3 separate regions of the Homo sapiens genome follow, and regions 1 and 2 are each linked to region 3. Evidence: fine-mapped expression QTL. A gene starts in region 3. Each other region holds a variant in brackets. All regions are shown on one strand. Distances are from middle to middle. Region 1 has its middle 17 kb from the start of TMA7B. Region 2 overlaps GRAP2 (GRB2 related adaptor protein 2). Region 3 holds the start of GRAP2 (GRB2 related adaptor protein 2).

Region 1 (2,765 bases), 76 kb before region 3:
CCTGTAATCCCAGCTACTTGGGAGGCAGAGGCAGGAGATTTGCTTGAACCAGGGAGGTGGAGGTTGCAGTGAGCTGAGATTACACCACTGCACTCCAGCCTGGGTGACAGAGTGAAACTCCATCTTAATAATAATAATAATAATAATAATAATAATAATAATATGCATTTAAGGGTTTTCATCTTTCATAGCTTGGTAGCTTATTTCTTTCTAAATACTATTCTATTGTCTGGAGGTACCACAGTTTATTTATTCATTCACCTATTGTAGGACATTTTGGTTTCTTCTAAGTTTTGGCAATTATGAATAAAGCCACTATAAATATCCATGTCCAGGTCTTTGTGTGGATGTTTTCAGCACCTTTCAGTAAATACCAAGGAGTGTGAATGCTGGATCCTATGACCAGCGTAAGTTTAGTTTTGCAAGAAACCGTCGAACTCTCTTCCAAAGTAGCTGTACCATTTTGCCTTCCCACCATCAATGAATGAGAGTTCCTGTTGTTTCACATCATCACCAGCATATGGTGTTGTCAGTATTATAGATATGGGGCATTCTTATAGGTGTGTGGTGATATTTCATTGTTTTAATTTGTATTTTCCTAATGACATATGATATTGAGCATCTTTTTATCTCCTCACTTGCCATCTATATCTTCTTCCATGAGCTGTCCATGTCTTTTGCCCATTTTTAAATTGGGTTGTTCATCTTCTAATTGTGGAGTTTTTTTGTTGTTGTTGTTGGTTTTTTTTGTTTCTTACTTTCTTTCTTTCTTTCTTTCTTTTTTTGAGATGGAGTCTTGCTCTGTTGCCCAGGCTAGAGCGAAGTGGCAGGAACTTGGCTCACTGCAACCTCCACCTCCCGGGTTCAAACAATTTTCCTGCATCAGCCTCCCAAGTAGCTGGGATTACAGGTGCCCGCCACCAAACCCGGCTAATTTTTGTATTTTTAGTAGAGACGGGATTTCACCATCTTGGCCAGGCTGGTCTCAAACTCCTGACCTCATGATCCACCTGCCTCGGCCTCCCAAAGTGCTGGGATTACAGGCGTGAGCCACTGTGCCCTGCCTATTGTTGAGTTTTAAGAGTTCTTTGTGTATCATAGTCCTTTATCAGATATGTCTTCTGTACATATTTTCTCCTGGTCTGTGACTTGTCTTCTCATTCTCTTGGCATATGGTGGGAGTGTTTACACCATAGAATTGGCAAATACCACAAGTTAGGGCTTCTTCTTAGAGAGAGCCAATTATTAAATCTTTACCAGCACGTCACTGCATCTAGGCATCAACCATTTATTGACTGCACTGCATATCTTTGACCTAAAAAAGATTTGGTCTAGCAGAGGAGGCAGATCAGTGAATCACTGACAATGGTGTTCTGAGTATTGGGATAGAGGGAGAACAAGGTTACTACAGGAACATAAGTGGGGGTGGGGGAACGGGGGCACTTACATCAACCATAATATTGGGATGGTTTCCCAGTGGAGACCTGGAGCCCTGAGCTAATGATTTCAAAGTAAGTAACAGTTGTCTGGACCCA[C/A]GCTGCCCTATAAGGCAGCTCTTTGCCACATGTGGCAATTTCAGTCATTTATACCAGGCATATTTCAAGTATTCAATAGCCACATGTGGCTAGTGGCTAGTGGCTACCACATTGGATGGAGCAGATACAGAGCTTTTCCCTCATCACAGAAAGTCCTAATAGACAGCCCTTGTCTAGACAAAACAGTGGGAGAAAGCATTCCAGGCAAAAAGAACAGAATGTAGGAGACCAGAGGTCTTAGAAAACATGCCTCATTCTGGGAACCACAGATAGTTCTAAGGGACTGAAGTAAAGAGTGTTTGGGACTGGAGAGGTAGAAGATGTGGCTGAACGAACAAGGCAGCAGGCAGATCACAAAAGGCCTTTAGTGCGAAGCTAAGGAGGTTAAACTCCAGCCTGAAGACTATGGAGAACCCAAAGATTTGAGCAGGAGCTTGGTATCATCAGCCTGTCTGCGAATAAGATCTCCCTGACTGCGTTGGAGGCTGTATTACAGGGGGCCAGCCAGAAAGGCAGGGAGACGAGTGCTGAGACTATTGCAGTCATCAGGGAAAGAAGTGAGAGAGGTTTGAAGTAAGGCAGTGGCTGTGGAATGGGTGCAGAGAAGGGACAGAGTTGAGAGAATGTGAAGGACCCGATGGCTGATTGTGTCTGACCCTGAAGAGGTGCTTTGTAAATATTTGTTGACTTAATGAATGAATTACAGCAAAACTTAAAACAATAGAAGTGAGTGCACAGCTACTAGGCTTCTAGGTAGTATCTACTGCACAAATGGTGTGGTGCAGAGGACACCCTTGCCTTGGTATGGACAGGCTGAAGTGTTGACTTTAGACTGAGAAAACAGCAAATATTTTGACCATGCTAATCAGTCCCCAGTGTGGGCTGTTGTGTTTCAGGTTAGCTGTGAGCTAACGATGGCATGTAGGTACATTCCCCTTCTTTTGAGCTCAAGGAGAAAGAGGCAACAGGGAAGAGTGAGAAGAGAGAGACGGAGGGAAGGGTTGGTATCCCTTGTTCTGTCTGATGGAGGGAGGGCTCGGCTGAGAAGAGAGCCAGCTGTGCTCATGGAAGATGCTGAGGGAGCCAGGGTCCAAGCAGTGCCTCTCAGAATTGGGCACAGGCTGGCCATTCTCCCCTCTACCTCTTCCCCAATCTCCTTGTCATGTGGACTGCAGGGCAGATTTGGTGTCCTGAAGGATTGGGTCAATTCACCAGCAGATAAATGTGGTG
Region 2 (2,765 bases), 20 kb before region 3:
AGCAGCCCCATGTAAGGCATGTAAGGTTACCTAAATTTACAATGTGCAAATCATCCCTGAGTGTTTCTTCTTGGACTATTCTCCTTTTTGTACTCCTCAATTCTTGCCATCCTTTAATATGGTGCAAATGTTACCTTCTCTGTAAAGCTGTTCCCTGAGCTTAATCCTCCCTCCCTTCTGCCCCAAGGGTACCCTGGCCTCATCTTCTCATTTCAAGTATGGCACCCAATGGAAAGGCATTTGTAATGATTTGTTTGCTTGTGTGTCTTCTCTCTCAAGCTGTAAGCTCTCCCAACTGAGAAGTATCTTCTTTGTGACTTTACAGCATAGCCCAGCCTCTGGCATACAGCAGTCACTTAGTAAATGTTGAATGAATAATGAATGAATGACCTATGGTCTCTTCTGGTTTGGCTTGTGCTAAACTATGCATCTGAGAATTAGGTGGTTTTGGCAATATGATGGAGTGAAACCAACTGACAATATGATGGAACTCAACTTTGCTCTTAAGAATAAGAAGTTTTGGGGAGGCTTAGGCTGGAGGATTGCTTGAGCCCAGGAGTTCGAGCCTGCAATGAACTATAATTGTGCCACTGCACTCTAGCCTGGGCAAAAGAGTGAGACCCTGTCTTGCAAAAATAACTAAATAAATAAATAATAAAAATAAAAACAATGGGTTTTAAACATTTGAGCTAATGGACCACAGATGATAAGGAATTTCAGTAACACATTTTCCTAGACAATATTTCTGTGTGTACTACATCTGGAGATGGTTCAAATAAATGATTAAAACATGTAAAACAGAACCATTAAGTAATCTAGATCATTTACTACAAAAGAGAAACTTGAAGAGACTTAATAATGGTTTTTAATAAAAGATTGTACTCCAAGGATGGCTAAACATCCTCCTTCTCCACAAACACAAAATAAGAAGAAATGAGATGAAAGCGCTTCAAAGATTAAAGTCAAAAACAAAAAGGAATTGAATGGTTTCCTGCCAGGCAGTGTAAACCCATTTCAAGTCACTATTACAGATAACTCACATTCGGAATCAGGCACAGCTCTAAATGCTTGCTATGTATTATGTCATCAATCAATCTAATTTTCATAATGAACCCATGCAAGTTTGTTTTAATTTTATTATTCCCATTGTACAGGTGAGGAAATAGAGGTTCAAGGTGGTTAAGCAGCTAACCCAGGTCACACAGCTGAGAAACCATAGAGCTGAAATTCAAATCCAGGCTGGCTGGCTTGTGAGGTTTTGGTCCGACTTCTAAGCTTCCTGCCTTGCTAGAGGCTGACATAGATGTCAGACCTCTGTCTGGGGATGGAG[G/T]CCTGAAGCTAAGCTCAAGAAAGCTCGAGAAGTTCAAGTGGCTAGCTTAAATTTAAACAAGAAAATCCTTGAATATACAAACGATTCTTCATTGCCAGGGCAACCAGCTCTCTTGAGGTCGTTACATCAGATTGTGTGTGTGTGTGTGTGTGTGTGTGTGTGTGTGTGTGTGTGTGTGTCTGTGTAGAGAAGTTAAATACCCATTTTTTGTATTCTTTATTCTGGTGAGCTGGCCTATCAGGTCTTGTCCTGCTAATGAGACAGTAAGTCGTTTTGACTTTTTTTTTGGCTGTCAGGGCATGCACGGTTTCAGCATCCACGTGTGTGTGTGTATTTATAAGACCTGACATGAATCGAGCCATATTTAGATATTATGACTTTACCTCCAGAGTGACGGAACTTACTCTGGGGGTTGGAGAGTCAGCATCTTCTTCCCTGTTATTTTTTCCAAGGCAAGCTTGTTTAGCCTGCCTCTGGGGCACATGAAGTGGGGTCACAGTCAGCACAGAATGGGGGCAGCATGTTCTGCAATTCAAATGCAACTCAAATGCCTGTGCCAAAGAAAGTCAACACTCATCTGATGGGCAGCAGAGAGGGGGCTCGAACACTGAGCTGCACCCCGGCTGCAGGAGGCCTGGAGGCTGGTTCCGGAGAACCAGGCAGCCCAGCAGGAGCCCCGTGAGAAGGGTGGGAATGAGTCACCAGACTTTTCAGGTTGATTGAGGTGATGTCTGTTGATTTTCTTTGAATTTAGATGTGTTATCAGTTCACACATTGGGCATAACGGGAAGAAGATGAGTGAACATTTTCTTGATAGTGCCTGACATTCAGCAGGGTTGTGATAAGATGTGGGGTAAGATATGACTCTGCAAGAATATGCTGGACAGTGTGTGTCCCCTAGCGTGTACCAAAGGAGCGGAGGCAGATGGACCCTCTTGGGAGAAAACAGTGTGACAAGCCCACTCTTTGTTCTCTGACAGACACAAGTTGGCCTGGGTGGATATTTACTATCTTAGGGCAAGGGGAAGAACTGCTAATTTGTCACACATTGTGTTCATGGTCTGGGAAAAGCACTTGCTTTTTTGACATTGGGTCCTCCACTACAACCAGATAGATTCTGAATGCTGTGGTTAAGAGTTAGGGTTTTAGGAGTTCGTATAATCTCTCTGGCCTCAGTTTCCTCATCTTTAAGATGGAAACAACAATGGCACTTATCCCCTTAGATAGGAATAAATAGACTAATACATATCAGGCACTTAAAACAATATATATCCAGCATTAAACTTGTATTTACATGAATGCATGCATCCTTATTTACACAACTTCATATTTATGGGAGGACTTACTCCAATGCTTGCTCAAGATAGATGCTTAGTAAATATTTGTCAAATATTGAAGGAGATAGAAGAATGGATTTAGTGGGGTACTTCTATGG
Region 3 (2,765 bases):
CTCTATTTACACAGTGTTCCTTATTTAATAGCAGATGGTTTTGTAAAGAGAATCACTATAAAATTATTCTATAAAGTTTTACATAAAATACTGGATTGTTAAAGGAGAGTAACTTCTGCTAAATACTCTTTCCGAAACCAAAAATAAGAAACAAAAAGGAGCCACTAAAGAACTAAACCGTTTATGACAAACATTGCTGCATAGAACAAAAGATTCTGCGACCTGAAGTTTCCCATCCTCAGATAACATAACGAGAACACACGAAATTTTTCCCATTGGATGTTTAGATCTAAAACACTTCCCACTCCTAGTTTATCTAGGGATGTGTATGTTCAATAGTGTGCAAATTATGCTGCATACACTTTATTAAGAAGGCCTAATTCCAGGTAGATAAATACGGTAAATTTTTTTTGACAGTATACCTGTCAGGGCAATACAGTACATTTTAAATTAGTGAAACCTTTGGTTGGTATGTTCAATCCTCACGTTCAGGAAGAGTTGGGACAAAGAACACAAAGCAGCTATCTTCAGACTGGACGCCTAAACCAGAGACAGTCATAGGGATGGAGCCTAACGGCTAGTACGAAGAGAGACAATACCCTTCCAAAATACACTTCAACATAAAGTTTTCTTTTCGTAAAGGAATGAAAACTGGTGTCCTTTGTACAGGTAACAAAAATGCGAACAGAACTAGAAATTCAAGCAAAGAGAGAAATCCTGACCTCAGAGTGCTAGTGTTCATTCATCACTGCTCAGCCCTCTACCACCCCCTCCAATCCCTTCCAATTTGGATTAAATTCTGACCATGGTGAAGTGGAATTTTACCTCCATGATCCCAAGGTCGAAAATCTTTCCCTGAGATGCTTCTGAAGCCAGTTTGTGGAGATTTTTGTGTTATGGACTGGGTAAGGAACAAGTGTTCTCCCAGTTCATTTGATAGAAGTCAAATCCCATCACCACAAACATTGTCACAGCAAAAGGTTTAGAGACCTTAGCTGATGGGACTTAAAAGCAATATTTAGAGAACTAGTGAGATTCATTTTAATTAACTCATACAGAACATTCTGCAAATTATAAAACTGTTCAAAGTTTCTAGAGTATATGTACAGATGTTGTATAATGACATACCTTTTGGAAGAGAAGGGGTTGAGTTTATGTCTTGGCTTTGACACCGAGTTATTAGAATCCTTTCTGGCAAGAAGGGAGACAAATTCAAGCATCAGAGTTACTGCATTTCAGAGTATGGATCCACTTTGTGCTGTCTTCCATGTACCACTCTGAAAGAGGGTGCAAGTTTACAGATCCATTAACTGTGCCTCCTCCTCCCCACCTCTTACTCCCTCCTCCAAACTAACCCTAGTCAGCCCTGCAGTCTGTAGGCAAACCACACAGGAACTAGCACATATGGGGCTTCGGAGAGTTGGGCGTGAGCCTTAGATTATGTGGTTTTGTTTTCTTGCTGCCAGAGTTGAACTAAAATGCAGGAGGTTCACTGAAACACTTTTGCTTCTTTATGCTTGGTTTCAGTTTTAACAATATCCCCCCTGAACACTTGTGTTCACATAAGAAAATTTATAGTTCTTGATATGGTCCATCAGCAAGCTGATCTTAAGGAAAACTCTTATTCTCTTAGTATAATCATGCATCCAGAGGAACATTAGGGCTTCTTGGGGGAACTTATTTAAGAGCACCCTCGATCACTCACAATGTTAAAATCCCAGGAAAGATGCTTTGTTCATACACTCAGCCTCTAATATTACTCTTGACAAAAAAAGAAGAAACATTCTGAGCTGGGATGCATTCTCACCCCAGGTTTGCCACAGTCCAGCATGAGGTGGAACCAGTTCCTTCAATTTCTGGGACTTCAATTTCTGTTGAGTCTTAGACTGAAGGCTTTCTGGGATTTAAGACTTTCCATTGACCTTGAGTTTTGTTACCTTCAACTTCCTTAGTTCTTACCTTTAAATGTACCACTCACCCTTCCCCCTATATCAACTGCAACTTGTGAAGGCCTCTTCCTTTCTCTTTGCTCTTGCTAGAAAATGGATTGCCAACGTTGCATCTTTTACAGAAAATTAGAGACATTGCTACTTGCTAAGTGGCACCATTCAGAGTTTGGGGACTGGATCCAAGATGAGGAGGGAAATGTTGGCTCACTGGGATGTTCCTAGCATTAATCCCTGGAATACCAAGAGGAGAGTGTCAAGGAGAGATTCAATTTGGGGTTCTAAAATTTAAACTTTTTCTGCAATGTGAAACGGCATCCTTTTCCATCTCTTTGCTTCTTTATATCTAAACCTTGCTTAAAATTTACTTTCTTAAAACCTTTTCCTTGGTTATAATTGCCCAACATTTTTATTGAAATAGAAAAGAAGAATCAGCAAAGTGTCAAGGTGACAGAAAATGCTCAGTAAATATTTGTCGAATGAGTTAAAGGAAGTAATTTTCTATCCATAACTCCTTTTTTTTTTTGAGACGGAGTTTCACTCTTCTTGCCCAGGCTGGAGTGCAATGGCATGATCTTGGCTCACTGCAACCTCCGTCTCCCGAGTACAAGTGATTCTCTTGCTTCAGCCTCCCAAGTAGCTGGGATTACAGGTACCTGCCACCATGCCTGGCTAATTTTTTTTGTATTTTTAGTAGAGATGGGGTTTCACCATGTCGGCCAGGCTGGTCTTGAACTCCTGAACTCAGATGATCCGCCCGCCTCAACCTCCCAAAGTGCTGGGATTACAGGCATGAGCCACCGCACCCGGCCCTGTAGC

What was found.
Region 1: its variant is fine-mapped to the expression of GRAP2 in whole blood (TOPMed, PIP above 0.99).
Region 2: its variant is fine-mapped to the expression of GRAP2 in whole blood (TOPMed, PIP 0.94).

The regions. Positions count from the first base shown.
Region 1 is chr22:39,976,064-39,978,828 of GRCh38, reverse strand. No RefSeq gene overlaps it. Among named protein-coding and RNA genes, the nearest start is that of TMA7B, 17 kb to the right of the region's middle. The variant C/A (reference allele first, on the strand shown) is at 1,536.
Region 2 is chr22:39,919,688-39,922,452 of GRCh38, reverse strand. The region is part of intron 1 of GRAP2 (GRB2 related adaptor protein 2); the gene reads right to left. Among named protein-coding and RNA genes, the nearest start is that of GRAP2, 20 kb to the right of the region's middle. RefSeq lists an enhancer at 1,326-1,375. The variant G/T (reference allele first, on the strand shown) is at 1,331.
Region 3 is chr22:39,899,694-39,902,458 of GRCh38, reverse strand. GRAP2 (GRB2 related adaptor protein 2) reads right to left here and starts at 1,375. Exons shown (of 8, transcript NM_004810.4): 1 at 1,129-1,375.